Regions from separate parts of the Homo sapiens genome. Here region 2 is linked to region 1. Evidence: fine-mapped expression QTL. Tissue or cell type: esophagus muscle. Region 1 holds a variant in brackets; the other region holds the start of a gene. All regions are shown on one strand. Distances are between the middles of the regions.

Region 1 (8,108 bases):
CACACACTACTGGGAGCCATGTTCCTCCTCTTGCACAATCTAGGAACTTCTAAATTGTGTTTGAGTCATAGTATCTTCAGGCCAGGAGATGAATTATGGCTGGTGTAAGCCAGTGTTTCTCAACAAGTGTGCTACTGGAATTTTGGACAAGACAATTTGTGTGTGTGTGAAAAGTATCTTGTGCATTTTAGGACATTTAGCATCCCCACACCAACCCACTAGATGCCAATAGCACCTCTCTGTATATGTGACAGCTGAAAGTGTCCCTTTCTATATTTTCAATACTGCCCCCTCCCGTCATGCCCTTGATGAGAACTGCTGGTCTAAGGCAAGCATGGCTGTCATGGTCTTTACCACATAGTGATGGTGCTCAGTCTTCTTGCAGGCAGAGTTGGCCAGTTGAGCAGTTCTGGCTGGGATCAGAGGAAATCTCTCGGGGCTTCTGAGAAAAATTTTCCTTCCGGGGAGAGGCACATGAGGTGAAATGTTTTCCCCCTCCCTTCCTTGTTGTCTCTTACTAGGCTGTGAGAGGCTGTGCTGCTTGCACCTATAGGAAACATCTTGTGACGATGAGGCAACAAGTTGGAAAATGAAAGCAGGCTGCTGGGAATTCAGAGTCAAGAATGGAAAGTCCCTGGGTCCGGGATGACCTTGTTAATCTTCCAGACTCACCAAGGGACTGCCAGTTCTTGTACTTTTTATTAGGTAAAACAGATATGTCCTTATATTTAAAACCACTGTTCATCAGGATTCCTGTTACCCATAGCCAAACACATTCTAACTTAGAGAGGAAGGGCATTTACATGATCAGCAAGTGAAATAAAATGGAGAGGTGCCAGCAAAACTAGGTTTTTCTGTGACACTTTGCTTTATTGTTGTTGTTTTTACATTATGATGTCCATAGCCCTTGTTTCACAATAAAGCAAAAATTTAAAAGTCATTATTCATTTCCAGAAAACCAAACTTTTATAAGACAAAAAGCTAACTACAATAAAAATATAAGGGTCTTGAAGGATTTTATTTTCAGAACTTTTTTTTTTTTTTTTTCCTTGAGACAGGGTCTAGCTCTGTTGCCCAGGCTGGAGACCAGTGGTGTCATCTCAGTTCACTGCAGCCTGCACCTCCTGGGCTCAAGCGATACTCCCACCTCAGCCCCCCAGGTAGCTGGGACTACAGGTGTGAACTACCATACCCAGCTAATTTTTGCATTTTTTATGGAGACGGAGTCTCACCATGTTGGCCAGGCTGGTCTCAAACTCCTGGGCTCAAGTGATTCTCCCACCTTGACCTCCCAAAGTGTTAAGATTACAGGCGTGAGCCACCATGCCTGGCCTATATTCAGAACTTTTCAAAATACTATTCTGTTTGCCTCTGTTGCTTGCTAATAGTGTTTAACCTTATGGATGCAACGGTAAGATCCTGTTTGGTCAAACCTTCAGTCAAATCTCTTCAGTTTTTAAAAGGACGGTTTTTTGTTCCCCACAAATTAAAGACCCACTAGGACAGGAGACAGTCCATTCAAAAACTATGTGACTGTTGACAAACTGTAAATCCATTCTTCTGCCAGAGGAGAGCACTGGGCCTTAAGCAATGGTTCTACTGTTGACCACACTGACTTCCTGTTAGACATGTTTTTGTTGCTCTTCCCTGTTTTTCTTAACCTGTAAATAGTTTTCTCTATCCCACTCATTTGGGTCCCAGTGCCACTGGCCAATCCAGGTCTTCAGCTTTTCTTGTCGACTAACAGTGGCCCCCCAATTGGTCCTCTGCCACCCATCTTTGCTTCCCATCCAAACTCTCTCCTACACAACAAGCCCTTTCTAAACACAAGTCTGGGAAATTTCCACTCCTGGGAAAATGGACTAGACATACTTTTCCATGTTCCTCTCACCAAGTATGGCTAAAAATCCTGAATATTATATGTAAAACAAGCAGAAGAAGACTGAAAGGCAAACTGGCTATGGACTTCAGGACCCAAGGACTGACACAGGAATGACTCCCTGTGTTTCATTTTTGCCTCATATATCCCAGAAGCCAGCAATCTGTACACATCAACAAGCACAGACAAAAACAGCCACCAGCAAAAGCCTCTTATGTATAACTAAAGGTCCAAGAAAGGAGGCAGTCTACCAAGACAGAAAACCTTTAGACAGTAACTGCTCTACTCCAGCCAGACAACAGAGAAGAATCTGCAGCCTACCCCCATCCACTCAAGCAAAGGCTTCTGATGAAAATGCCAGTGGGCTGTGATGTGATTAGTTAGGCAGGACACCAGGGTAGGCTTATCATAATCTGGGCACACAGAATTGCAGTCATTTGGCACACCTTTTCAACAAAGTGAAAAACAGGAATTGCTTTATAGTACCGTGGGAAAGAGTACCGCCTGGCGATGAAACGAGCAAAACATCTAGAGGCTGTGCTGCTGAGCCTGCTGGTGGAAGTCAAATCAGTGTTGGTTCTTAAAAGTTCACTACCCAGGCCCTGCCTGGGGAGTGAAGTAGGGAGTGTACAGTCAGGAGAAGGGACTGATGGAATGTGCGGGTCTGTTCCCGATGGAAGCTAGGCTTATCTTCCCTTGGAGGGAAGAATCCGTATGTAATATGTCAGCCAGTGTGGGACTCAGGGAAGTCCAAGGTCATTGGGTTTCTGGAGGGAAAAAAGAATAGAGGAAAAGGTATAGGCAGAGATGATGTTTCTTTGGTCCTCACAACCCGACGTCTAGGGAGGTGAGGGCCTGTATTAGTCTTATGTGACAGATGGGACAGCAGAGGCACAGAGAAGTCAGATGGCAGCAGAGATTAGAGGTAAAGCCGGTGTGCTCATGTGATCACTTGCTTATGTGAGCAGAAGTAGTTCTGCTTGTCATCTTGCTATAGCCCATTTGAAGGCAGAAGGAGGATAATTGCCCACTACACCAAAATTGCATTCCGCCAAACTTGCCACCAAGAGCTCAACAGTCGCCACGATGCTGAGCACGGAAGGCAGGGAGGGGTTCGTGGTGAAGGTCCAGGGCCTATCCTGGTCCTGCTCAGCTGATGAAGTGATGCACTTCTCTGATTGCAAAATACAAAATGGCACATCAGGTATTTGTTTCATCTACACCGGAGAAGGCAGACCAAGTGGTGAAGCATTTGTTGAACTTGAATCTGCAGATGAAGCGAAATTGGCTTTAAAGACAGAGAAACCATGGGACACAGATACGTTGAAGTATTCAAGTCTAATAGTGTTGAAATGGATTGGGTATCGAAGCACACAGGTCTGAATAGTCCTGATACTGCCAACGATGGCTTCGTCTGGCTTAGAGGACTTCCATTTGGCTGTCCAAGGAAGAGATTGTTCATTTCTTTTCAGGGTTGGAAATTGTGCCAAATGGGATAACACTGTGAGTGGACTTTCAGGGCAGAAGCACAGGGGAAGCCTTTGTGCAGTTGGCTTCGCAGGAGATAGCTGAGACGGCATTGAAGAAACACAGGGAAAGAATAGGGCACAGGTACATTGAAATCTTCTAGAATAGCCAAGCTGAAGTTCATACCTACTATGATCCCTCTCAGAAGCTCATGGCTGTGCAGTGGCCAGGTCCCAGTGATAGGCCAGGGGCTGGCTGAGGTGTAATAGCATTGGCAGAGGAGCTGGGTTTGAAAAGATGAGGCAGGGTCCCTATGGTGGAGGGTATAGAGGCTATGATGACTATCGTGGCTGTAATGATGGATATGGCTTTAGGTCTGATAGATTTGGAAAAGACCGCAATTACTGTTTTTCAGGAATGTCTGATCATAGATACGGAGATAGTGGGTCCAGTTTCCAGAGCACCACAGGGCACTGTGTACACACGAGGGGTTTACCTTACAGAGCCACTAAGAATGTTATAATTTCTATTCACCTCTTAACCTCATGAGAGTACATA[T/C]TGAAATTGGACACGATGACAGAGTTTACTGGTAGGGCAGATGTTGAGTTTGCTGCTCACGAAGATGCAGTGGCAGCTATGGCAAAAGACAAAGCTAATATGCAGCACAGGTACAGGGAGACCTTTTTAAATGCTATAGGAACAAGTAGGGGGGTTTATGAACACACCTATGTAGAACTTTTCTTGAATCTACAGCAGGGGCAAGTGGTGGTGCTTATGGTAGGCAAATGATGGGAGAGATGGGCTTACCCAACCAGTCTAGTTATGCAGCTGAGTGGTGGTTGTGGAGGTGGTTATGGTGGTCTGAGTAGTGTGAGTGGTGGTTATGGAGGTGGTTATGGAGGTCAGAGCAGCTGAGTCGTGGTTATGGAGGTGGTTAGGGTGATCAGAGCATTGTGAGTGGTGGTTATGGAGGTGGTTATGGAGGTCAGAGCAGCTGAGTGGTCGTTGTGGAGGCGGTTAGGGTGATCAGAGTAGTGTGAGTGGTGGTTATGGAGGTGGTTATGGTGATCAGAGCAGTGTGAGTGGTGGTTATGGAGGTGGTTATGGAGGTCAGAGCAGCTGAGTGGTGGTTATGGAGGTGGTTATGGAGGTCTGAGCAGTGTGAGTGGTGGTTATGGAGGTGGTTATGGTGATCAGAGCAGTGTGAGTGGTGGTTATGGAGGTGGTTATGGAGGTCAGAGCAGCTGAGTGGTGGTTATGGAGGTGGTTAGGGTGATCAGAGCAGTGTGAGTGGTGGTTATGGAGGTGGTTATGGTGATCAGAGCAATGTGAGTGGTGGTTATGGAGGTGGTTAGGGTGATCAGAGCAATGTGAGTGGTGGTTATGGAGGTGGTTATGGTGATCAGAGCAATGTGGGTGGTGGTTGTGGAGGTGGTTATGGTGGTCAGAGCAGCTGAGTGGTGGTTATGGAGGTGGTTATGGAGGTCTGAGCAGCTGAGTGGTGGTTATGGAGGTGGTTATGGAGGTCTGAGCAGCCGAGTGGTGGTTATGGAGGTGGTTATGGAGGTCTGAGCAGTGTGAGTGGTGGTTATGGAGGTGGTTATGGAGGTCTGAGCAGTGTGAGTGGTGGTTATGGAGGTGGTTATGGTGATCAGAGCAATGTGAGTGGTGGTTGTGGAGGTGGTTATGGTGATCAGAGCAATGTGAGTGGTGGTTATGGAGATCAGAGCAGTGTGACTGGTGGTTATGGAGGTGGTTATGGTGGTCAGAGCAGCTGAGTGGTGGTTATGGAGGTGGTTATGGTGATCAGAGCAATGTGAGTGGTGGTTATGGAGGTGGTTATGGTGATCAGAGCAATGTGAGTGGTGGTTGTGGAGGTGGTTATGGTGATCAGAGCAGTGTGAGTGGTGGTTATGGAGGTGGTTATGGTGATCAGAGCAATGTGAGTGGTGGTATTGGAGGTGGTTATGGTGGTCAGAGCAGCTGAGTGGTGGTTATGGAGGTGGTTATGGTGGTCAGAGCAGTGTGAGTGGTGGTTGTGGAGGTGGTTATGGTGATCAGAGCAATGTGAGTGGTGGTTATGGAGGTGGTTATGGTGATCAGAGCAATGTGAGTGGTGGTTGTGGAGGTGGTTATGGTGATCAGAGCAATGTGAGTGGTGGTTATGGAGGTGGTTATGGTGATCAGAGCAATGTGAGTGGTGGTTGTGGAGGCGGTTATGGTGATCAGAGCTGTTGAGTGGTGGTTATGGAGGTGGTTATGGAGGTCAGAGCAGTGTGAGTGGTGGTTATGGAGGTGGTTATGGAGGTCAGAGCAGTGTGAGTGGTGGTTATGGAGGTGGTTATGGTGATCAGAGCAATGTGAGTGGTGGTTGTGGAGGTGGTTATGGTGATCAGAGCAATGTGAGTGGTGGTTGTGGAGGTGGTTATGGTGATCAGAGCAATGTGAGTGGTGGTTATGGAGGTGGTTATGGTGATCAGAGCAATGTGAGTGGTGGTTATGGAGGTGGTTATGGTGATCAGAGCAATGTGAGTGGTGGTTGTGGAGGCGGTTATGGTGATCAGAGCTGTTGAGTGGTGGTTATGGAGGTGGTTATGGAGGTCAGAGCAGTGTGAGTGGTGGTTATGGAGGTGGTTATGGAGGTCAGAGCAGTGTGAGTGGTGGTTATGGAGGTGGTTATGGTGATCAGAGCAATGTAAGTGGTGGTTGTCGAGGCGGTTATGGAGGTCAGAGCAGCTGAGTGGTGGTTATGAGGTGGTTATGGTGATCAGAGCAATGTGAGTGGTGGTTGTGGAGGCGGTTATGGAGGTCAGAGCAGCTGAGTGGTGGTTATGGAGGTCAGAGCAGTATGAGTGGTGGTTATGGTGGTCAGAGCAGTGTGACTGGTGGTTATGGAGGTGGTTAGGGTGATCAGAGCAGTATGAGGGGATATGACCACGTTCTGGAGGAAAACTCCAGTGACTGTCAGTCAAAGCTTGGTTAGGTAGAGAAGGAGCACTAAAGAGCTACTCCAGATATAAAAGCAGTGCACTTATGGGAGTTGAATAGAATGGGAGGGATGTCTAGTATATCCCGTATAATGGGTAAATGAGAAATATAATTTATTCTGATCACTCTTGGTCAGCTTCTCTGTCGTCTTTCTTTTTCCTCTTTTTTTGAGACAGAGTCTAACTCTGTCGCCAGGTTGGAGTGCAGTGGCACGATCTTGGCTCACTGCAACTTTGCCTCCCAGGTTCAAGTGATTTCTCCTGCCTCAGCCTCCCAGTAGCTGGGACTATAGGCACGTGCCACCACGCCCAGCTAATTTTTGTATTTTATATATATATATATATATGTATTTATACTTTAAGTTCTAGGGTACATGTGCACAACGAACGTGCAGGTTTGTTACATATGTATGCATGTGCCATGTTGGTGTACTACACCCATTAACTCGACATTTACATTAGGTATATCTCCTAATGCTATCCCGCCCCCCTCCCCCCACCCCACAACAGGCCCCAGTGTGTGATGTTCCTCTTCCTGTGTCCAAGTTCAATTGTTCAATTCCCACCTATGAGTGAGAACATGTGGTGTTTGGTTTTTTGTCCTTGCGATAGTTTGCTGAGAATGATGGTTTCCAGCGTCATCCATGTCCCTACAAAGGACATGAACTCATCATTTTTTATGACTGCATAGTATTCCATGGTGTATATATGCCACATTTTCTTAATCCAGTCTATCATTGTTGGACATTTGGGTTGGCTCCAGGTCTTTGCTATTGTGAGTAGTGCCGCAATAAACATACGTGTGAATGTGTCTTTATAGCAACATGATTTATATTCCTTTGGGTATATACCTAGTAATGGGATGGCTGGGTCAAATGGTATTTCTAGTTCTAGATCCCTGAGGAATCGCCACACTGTCTTCCACAATGGTTGAACTAGTTTACAGTCCCACCAACAGTGTAAAAGTGTTCCTATTTCTCCACATCCTCTCCAGCACCTGTTGTTTCCTGACTTTTTAATGATTGCCATTCTTACTGATGTGAGATGATATCTCATTGTGCTTTTGATTTGCATTTCTCTGATGGCCAGTGATGGTGAGCATTTTTTCATGTGTCTGTTGGATGCATAAATGTCTTCTTTTGGGGAGTGTCTGTTCATATCCGTTGCCCACTTTTTGATGGGGTTGTTTGTTTTTTTCTTGTAAATTTGTTTGAGTTCTTTGTAGATTCTGGATATTAGCCCTTTGTCAGATGAGTAGATTGCAAAAATTTTCTCCCATTTTGTAGGTTGCCTGTTCAGTCTAATGGTAGTTTTTTTTGCTGTGCAGAAGCTCTTTAGGTTAATTAGATCCCATCTGTCAATTTTGGCTTTTGTTGCCATTGCTTTTGGTGTTTTAGTCATGAAGTCCTTGCCCATGCCTATGTCCTGAATGGTATTGCTTAGGTTTTCTTCTAGGGTTTTTATGGTTTTGGGTCTAACATTTAAGTCTTTAATCCATCTTGAATTAATTTTTGTATAAGGTGTAAGGAAGGGTTCCAGTTTCAGCTTTCTACATATGGCTAGCCAGTTTTCCCAGCACCATTTATTAAATAGGGAATCCTTTCCCCATTGCTTGTTTTTGTCAGGTTTCTCAAAGATCAGATAGTTGTAGATGTGTGGTATTATTTCTGAGGGCTCTGTTCTGTTCCATTGGTCTATATCTCTGTTTTGGTACCAGTACTATGCTGTTTTGGTTACTGTAGTCTTGTAGTATAGTTTGAAGTCAGCGTGATGCC
Region 2 (8,108 bases), 88 kb before region 1:
GGGCTGGCACAGACAGCCAAAGTAAAAAGGCAGAGGTCCCGGCCTAGGGGAGCAGGGTCAGGCACAGCAGGGCAGACACAGCCTAACCAAGGCACACATCTGAAGTCAGTGCCCAGTATGATTGGCACAGTCAAGGTTGCCCGAGAGATATCCTTGAAAAATCCCTCAGAAGATCACATGGGGGATCAACATAACATCTCACAGCAAGTCCAACAGAACGATTTCTTCCCCTCTAGCACTGGAATGGAATTCTTGTTTCTTTGAGTTCCAAATTAGGAGTCAGTTTCTTTTTCTTTTTAAACACTGAAACTCACACTCAACGCAGTGAGAGGTTCATTAGGGAGTGGAACATGATGGAGACAGGTGAAAGCCATTCTCAGTTGGGGCACAGGGAGAGCAGCGCCAGCTGCACAGGCAGCTGAAGCCATCCCCGCCAAGCATGGATGGAGGTCACCACACTCCTGGAAACGGCACGCCCGCCCACGGGAAATGCAGACAACAGCAACAAGGAAACAAAAAGGCACCTGGAGAAACAGGCCATACCTGCGAACTCTCCAGTTCCCAGTCAGGATATCGTGTCTAATTTTCTTCTCCTGTTCTTCATTCATATATGGGATTCCGTTTTTGAGAAACTTAAGACAGAAACAGAACAACAAACAGAACAAGGAGACAAGTCAGAGGGATCCTCTGTGCCTGATTTCACGAGGACAGGTAGAAAGGGGAAAGGAGACGGGCTGTATAAGCCAGTTCGTCTAGATCACTTGTAAGACATTCCCAGGCCGGGTGCGGTGGCTCATGCCTATAACCCCAGCACTTTGGGAGGCCGAGGCAGGTGGATTGCCTGAGGCTAGGAGTTCAAGACCAGCCTGACCAACATGGTGAAACCCCGTCTCTACTAAAAATACAAAAAGAATTAGCTGGGCATGGTGGCGGGTGCCTGTAATCCCAGCTACTTGGGAGGCTGAAGCAGGAAAATCACTTGAACCCGGGAGGCGAAGATTGCACCACTGCACTCCAGCCTGGGCAACAGAGCGAGACTCCATCTCAGAAACAAACAAAAGACATTCCCGTTCCCCTCCTCCAATGCCATACCTTGTTATAGTTGAAGCCATACTGATTCAAAAACTGAACACTGGAAGCCTGGAAGGAGAATTCTGAGTCCAAAATCCCAAACGTTGTAGGGAAGAGATAGAAGTTACAAGAATGGGCTATATACCTATAATAAAACAAACATACAGAGAAAAAGCCACAACCATTTAAAAAACTCTGGCTCCCAGGGCTGGCTTCAGGGTGGGCTCTTTCTTTTAGGCAAGAAGAATCTGAGTGTGCCCGAGTGTCTGCTGTGTTTCAGGAGCTATGATTGGCACTGGGGGTGCTAAATGAAAAAGGCAGAGAGCCTGCCTTCAGGGCCAGCGTATACCACAGAGACAGCCCCTCCACAAGCTGCCCAGGGATGCCAGGTTAGGGCGTGCAGGCTGGCACCCTCAACTGCTCATGGGGGGTGGGGAGGCATCCTGATAGTTGGGGCATCCTTTCTGCCTACTGTGTCAGGTAGTTTAAACATCACTTTCATTACACCACACTGTGTCAGGCGCTTTTATTAATATAGGTGCACACTGGAGACAATGGAAATGGGGAAAGGAGCACTTAAGGTACAGAGCAAGGCTGGCGGGAAAGGTACTGCTTCCAGAGAGACATCAAAGACAAGCTGGAATCCGCAGAGGGCAGAGTGAGTGGAGGAACAGACACAGGAGAGAATACGGAAGATCCAGGGCAAAAGTGATCGGGGCACCTGAGGCAGAATTTGAAGGTGGCAGCTGTGGAACATAGGTGGGAAGCACCTATGTTTGCAGAAGCTCTTGATACATACTTGTTTGCCTCTCCTTCAATAGCGGAAAACACAGACAATCCTGGAAGAATGACCGTAGAGGGAATGAATGCCAAGGAAAAGCAACCTGAATTTCACTACAAAGACAAAAACAACTCAAACAGTACTTTGCGCCCACAGATACTATGTGGGCTGTACAACAGGATAACATCTTTAATGACAAAAAAGAAAAGACAGACTGGAAGCATGAGAAATGTCAAATTGTAATTCACACTGAATTTGCTAAAATCTAATTGTGGCCTGTTCTTCAAATACAGAAGTAAATATTAAAATGACATTCTCATAGTTTTAAAACTATCCACAGAAAATACCAAAAACCATTAAGATTTATATATTTAACTCATTTAAAATGTCTATTCCTCCCCCCTCAAAGAAAACCATATGCAAAGTTAAAAAAAAAAAAGACTTCAGGCCAGGTGCGGTGGCTTATGCCTGTAATCCCAACACTTTGGGAGACCTAGGCAGGTGGATCACTTGAGGTCAGGAATTCGAGACCAGCCTGACCAACATGGTGAAACCCTGTCTCTACTAAAAATACAAAAATTAGCTAGGTGTGGTGGCGCGCACCTGTAATCCCAGCTACTCAGGAGGCTGAGGCAGGAGAATTGCTTGGGCCTGGGAGGCAAGGGTGTTGCAGGGAGCCAAGATCGTGCCCCTGCACTCCAGCCTGGGCAACAGAGCAAGACTCTGTCCCCCTTCCCCCCAAACAAATTTGGGTACAACAATGGAAACATAACTACAACTGTTTCCTATACTTCTCAAAGAGGTCTTATAATTAAAAACAAACAAACGAACAAAAAAAAAACCATAACAGAAAAGTAGCAAAGGATCAGGATAGAGAGGAAAACACACACACGTTCAGCATCATTCATAGTAAAAGCAGGGGCTGGGCGTGGCAGCACTCCCAGCTACTTCAGAAGCTGAGACTGGAGGATCTCCAGAGCCCAAAAGTTTGAGCCCAGCCTGGGCAACACAGCAAAAACCCAATGGTGCGGGAGAGGGCACAGACAAACCCAGAAAAGTAAAATCTGGCCCAGGGTCTGTTTCTGTAAATACAATAACATTTTACTGGAATGGAGCCATGCTCATTTGTTCATGTATTCTCTACAGCTAATTTCACATTACAAAAGCAGGATTGAGTAGCTGTAAAAGAAACAGCATTACGCAACCGTTAACAGCTCTGTCTTGACCAGCCTGGCCAACATGGTGAAACCCCATCGCTACTAAAAATACAAAAATTAGCCAGGCCTGGTGGCAATTGCCTGTAATCCCAGCTGCTCTGGAGGCTGAGGCAGGAGAATCACCCGAACCTGGGTGGTGGAGGTTGCGGTGAGCCCACATCGCGCTACTGCACTCCAGCCTGGGCAACAGAGCGAGACTCCATCTCAGAAAATAAACTAATAACTAAATCAACAAATAGATCTGTATGAACCGATACAGAAAGATCTCCAAATCCCATCAAGGAAAAAAAAAAAGTTTCTGAAACTGAGATGACCTTAAAAAAAATTATTTTTGTGTGTAAATTTTCTTAAGAAAAAAAAATCACAGGCCAGGTGTGGTTGCTCACGCTTATAATTCCATCACTTTGAGAGGCAGAGGCAGAAAGATTGCTCGAGCCCAGGAAGTCAAGAACAGCCTGGCCAACATGACGAAAACCCATCTGAACAAAAAATTTAAAAATTAGCTAGGTGTGGTGGTGAGCCTGTAGTCCCAGTTTACTCAGGAGGCTGACGTGCTAGTATCACTTGAGCCCAGGAAGTCTAGGCTGCAGTGAGCTAAGACTATGCTACTGCACTCCAGTCTTGGTGACAGAGCAAGACCCTGTCTCAAAAAATAAAATAAAAATCGCACACACACAGTTTTACTTGAAAGAGTAACAGTGAGTGTTCCTTAATACTGACTTATTTAAGCACGGAAACAATGCTGCTAAATTTGGTTTGCTCCGAAGTGTTGATTTCCATATGTATACAATGGCCCAACACAAAACAAGCATACAAAACGATACTCAATATCCTTGAAAAATCTCAGAGCTGTTTTTACAGTAGGAAATCCAAGGACAATAAAAATACCTTCTTGAAAAACTCTAACAGCTGATATTAAACTCACCAATCTGACAGACTGTAAATTGCTGAACACTCTGACGGGTCTTTAGATACCACTCCGATGGCAAATCAAAAAGACTGTGAACAAACAGGCATCTCATTCCACGAGCAATGACATCCCATCCCGGCACTATGGCCTCCGCGGCAGGACCACCACTCGCAACCGGGGAGGATTTTTTCCTTGTTACAACAACTAGGGAGCACTACCATCATTTAGTGGACAGAAAAAAGCAAGGTCCTCCAACACGTAGGAGCAAGCCACACAAAACGTCCTGCCCCCCAAATGCCAACAGGCTGCTGGCCAGAAACAGTGCTGGTCTGGCCAGGCTCTTATACAGAGGGGACACAGCTTTAGTTTTACCTGATCTGCTGGGGCCCAGACAGGTTAGAACGAAGGCCCGTGAACTCTATGTCCAGACCTGCCAGGAAGGCAAAAAATAGCAGTCCTCGGGTGCAGAACATCGCCAGCACTCCTCACACTGTAGATCTGCAGGCGGCCAAGGCACCCGCGCTCACCTCTGCGCTCAAGAAGCCAAGTGAGGTCAGGAAGGGAAAATGGAGGAACCAAGGCAAGGAGCAGCCAGGCACCTGGGCGCACGGGGCTCTGGCCAACAAGGGACGTGGGGCTCGGAGTGTACTTGCTGCTCAAAGTCCCACCGCCCCGGGGCTGGAGAAGGAAGCCCCCCTGTCCTTCCCGAGGCCCTCTCTGAGGCCCTGTGGCCTGGCAACCGTCCCGCCACCCCCTCCTCAAGCTCGCCCGGGGCAAGGGGCTCTGTCCGGCACAGCCGCGAATCCCAGGCTCTTCACCCACGAAGTCGGCCTCCTGGACGAGCTCCTGCAGCAGAGGGAGGCTCTCCTCGAACTCGTCGGCGCCCACGTCCATGGCCGTGCAGCTCCGCGGAGTCGCCCAGCGCTATCACGTGCTGCCCACGTGCTGCCCACGCGCTTCCGTCGCGCCGCCGGGTCTTAAAGGGCGCACACATGGAAACCAGGCAGCTGCCTCCGCCCCACGTGCCCAGCTTCCCCGTGTGCTGCTGGCGTCGCCCACACCTGCCTGCGGGTGTTTTAATTGTACGATTTGCTACAGAGGTTTGATTGCAATTGCAATCAAAGCCTGTTTACCTGGCTCCTCAGCAATTTCTTTGCAGCCCTTAACGTGAGAATGTCATTTACATGGACTTAGAATGTTAAGAGGCGTGGCAGGAGACGAAGACAGAGTCCAGAAAGGGTGAAATCAGAAAAGCGGAGCAGGAACAACACCGGACGCAACTGCAATAAGCAGATCCTTTGCTGCGGCTCACGGTCTTCTAAATCACCTCTTCCCAACTTCTCCATCACTGCCAGTATGTCTGTCCCCATTCCCTCTCCCACGCCCCTGGACATCTTTTTCCTCATTCTGCTGTCCACCTTACCACTGTCTTCACACCTGCAATCAAACTTTGCAAAGCCTCAAGAACTGCCCATTAAATTGAAGGAATCCTTGGTCCCCAGGGATTATCTCGTGCACTCACTCCTTGCGGAAATCCCTACCTACATCATCACATACATGTGAGCTTAATTTTTACTTTTGTTACTGTTTCCAGTGCAACTAGTCCATGGTCTTCCTTACAGTGTCCTCCCTTGAATTCTAGGCTTCTACTTGAACAGCGTTTTGGAACTATGGTCCTCAAAGTGAGGTGCTCAAATCAATCTTTAAGGTTAGCGGAGAAAACATTACCGTTATACTTTATTTTTTCCTTTTGAGACAGTCTCACTCTGTCACCCAGGCTGGAGTGCAGTGGTGCCATCTCGGCTCTCTGCAATCTCCACCTCCTGAGTTCAAGCGATTCTCCCGCCTCAGCCTCTGAACAGCTGGGATTACAGGCATGCACCACCACGCCCAACTCATTTTTGTTTTTAGTAGAGATAGGGTTAAACCGTATTGGCCAGGCTGGTCTCGAATTCCTGGCCTCAAGTGATCCACCTGCTTCAGCCTCCTAAAGTGGTGGGATTAGAGGTGTGAGGCACTGCATCCGATCTTCAATTATACTTTTAAATGCCTCTCCGGGACATTAATTAAGCAAAAGGGGACTATTAAGCCATTTGATTCTGAAGACCTCTCAGAACAAATCATACTTCATACAGATGTGTTCCATTTAAAATAACACATTGAATACTCAAATTGGCAGAAGTAACATATTTCACTTCTAAACAAACATTTAATTGGGGTATACATTAAAAAAACTGGAAAACAATGCTCTAGAAGCCACCTTAACTGCCTACAGGTTTTTTCTCACATTTATCAAATAGCCAAAAATTAACACCTTAATCAGCTCCTTTCAGAGAACTGCCATGATTCCCATCTACCCAAGCTCAAATTTTAGATTAACTTGCATGCATTTCAAGTTTCATCTCCTATCTAATAAAATGTTCACTTCATGGCAAATTGAGCGCCCACTAACCCCAACCATTTCCACCTCTGCTTTCAGCTCCTGATGCCACCTCCTTCCTCTTTCAAATTTGTTTCTCTTACTGTTGGGAACCAAGAGTCCAAGTGAGGTTGGCATTTGGTCCTTTCATTTTCACATACTGACTGTTCTATAGTATTAGATTGATACTGACATTTCCTATTTTAAAAAACAACCCACACTCCGAGCAGCAAACAACTGTCATTCACTGAGATCACTCGCCATGAACTAGACACAGTAATAAGTGCTTTACATCAACCTCATATGTGCTCCACTGCCACAGTGAGCTCAGACAATGTCATATAACCAGAAAATAAGAGTTCATAATATGCCTTTATTTTGTAATTTATAAACAACTTCTGACTTGCCCTTTGAAAGTTAATTATAATTGATGACTGCTTTTCTTAGATGCTTCTGAAGCCCAAGAGAGGGGCAGAACGTAGTTCTTGATTTAAAAAAACAGAAAGGGGAGGAGGATGACCTTAACTACAAATAATATTCCACTGCAACATTATTGCTGTAAAACTTCCAAGCTGGCTGTTCTTCCAGATGCTCTCTTTTGATGGCTGTAGTGGCTGACAGATTTATATTTACATGTTCAAAACAATTAATGCTTCCATTTATTCATAGATTCTCTGAGGTTCCCGTAGAACCACACCACCTTCTGTCATGGCACTTTGTAGTCGTTTCATCTGGTTTTGAAAATCAGAAAAAAAAGGAAAAGATTAAGTCAGCAGCACGAGTAGGCTGAAAATACTTTCACCTTCCAAAAGACAGAAATAAATTGATTTGTTCTTGCTAACTTCCCAGCCTACAACGGTTTTTCAGAAAGTGATCTTAATAATGATGTAAGTAAAAAGGAAATGTAGAGATGTCAAGGTTCAGCAGCATTTCAAAATATTATATGGACAAGATGTCAATATATGAACAGGAAATACAGTGGCTGACATCATGGACTACAGAATCAGTCACCCTGGGTTTGAAATCCACCATACACTGACTCTGGGCAAGTAAGCCTCAGTTTATTTCTGTATAGAATGAGAGTACTAGTCCCTACCCTATGGACTGATGTGAGGATTAAATGAAGTAACACTGTTGAGTACTCACCAAAGGGTCTGACACATGGAAAGTATTTGGTAAGTAAAAACTGTTATTATTATGTAAGTTATCTAATGCCAAGAATTAACACAATACCTTTTCAATAAGTACATGAAAACAAAAATACCGAGTCTGAGGCTGCCTCCCACGGGGTTGGTTGGTAGACCATGAAGTTGATTCCCGCCTCTAAGCATCTCTGTGCCAGCACTCGTCCTATACTCTCACAAGCCACCACATTTCTGGTACTATAAAGGTGCTTTTTAATAGCCCACTCACGAGTGGAGGCCGAAACCACAACCTTGCCATTCTGATGCTCCACAAGTGCTTCTACATGATGCTGAGTCCTTATAACTCGCAACCTAAATGGGGTGAGAAGATAATAAAATCACAGAAGAATCTGTATCCTAAAGTTACATTAATTGAGGTGAATAAATGACTAAATATTTTTCAACAATCCAGTGTTTGGTTCATTTACTTCAACATATTTAACTTGGATTTTGCTTGGGAAAAGTATTTTTCCTCCGCCTTTATGAGAATATCCTCAATAATAACAAACTAAATAGTTCAAGTATC

What was found. PIP is the estimated chance that this variant, and not a neighbour inherited with it, causes the effect.
Region 2: PNLDC1 starts here. The variant in region 1 is fine-mapped to the expression of PNLDC1 in esophagus muscle (GTEx, PIP 0.94). The same link has a PIP of 0.9 or more in sigmoid colon.

The regions. Positions count from the first base shown.
Region 1 is chr6:159,708,843-159,716,950 of GRCh38, reverse strand. It overlaps a transcript of SOD2 not described here and the pseudogene HNRNPH1P1. Among named protein-coding and RNA genes, the nearest start is that of WTAP, 15 kb to the left of the region's middle. The variant T/C (reference allele first, on the strand shown) is at 3,905.
Region 2 is chr6:159,797,073-159,805,180 of GRCh38, reverse strand. PNLDC1 (PARN like ribonuclease domain containing exonuclease 1) reads right to left here and starts at 4,905. Exons shown (of 19, transcript NM_001271862.2): 1 at 4,798-4,905; 2 at 4,352-4,409; 3 at 3,995-4,068; 4 at 1,871-1,910; 5 at 1,093-1,216; 6 at 544-632. The coding sequence starts at 4,873. It overlaps MRPL18 (mitochondrial ribosomal protein L18), which reads right to left. Exons shown (of 4, transcript NM_014161.5): 3 at 7,663-7,894; 4 at 6,752-7,129. The coding sequence ends at 7,058.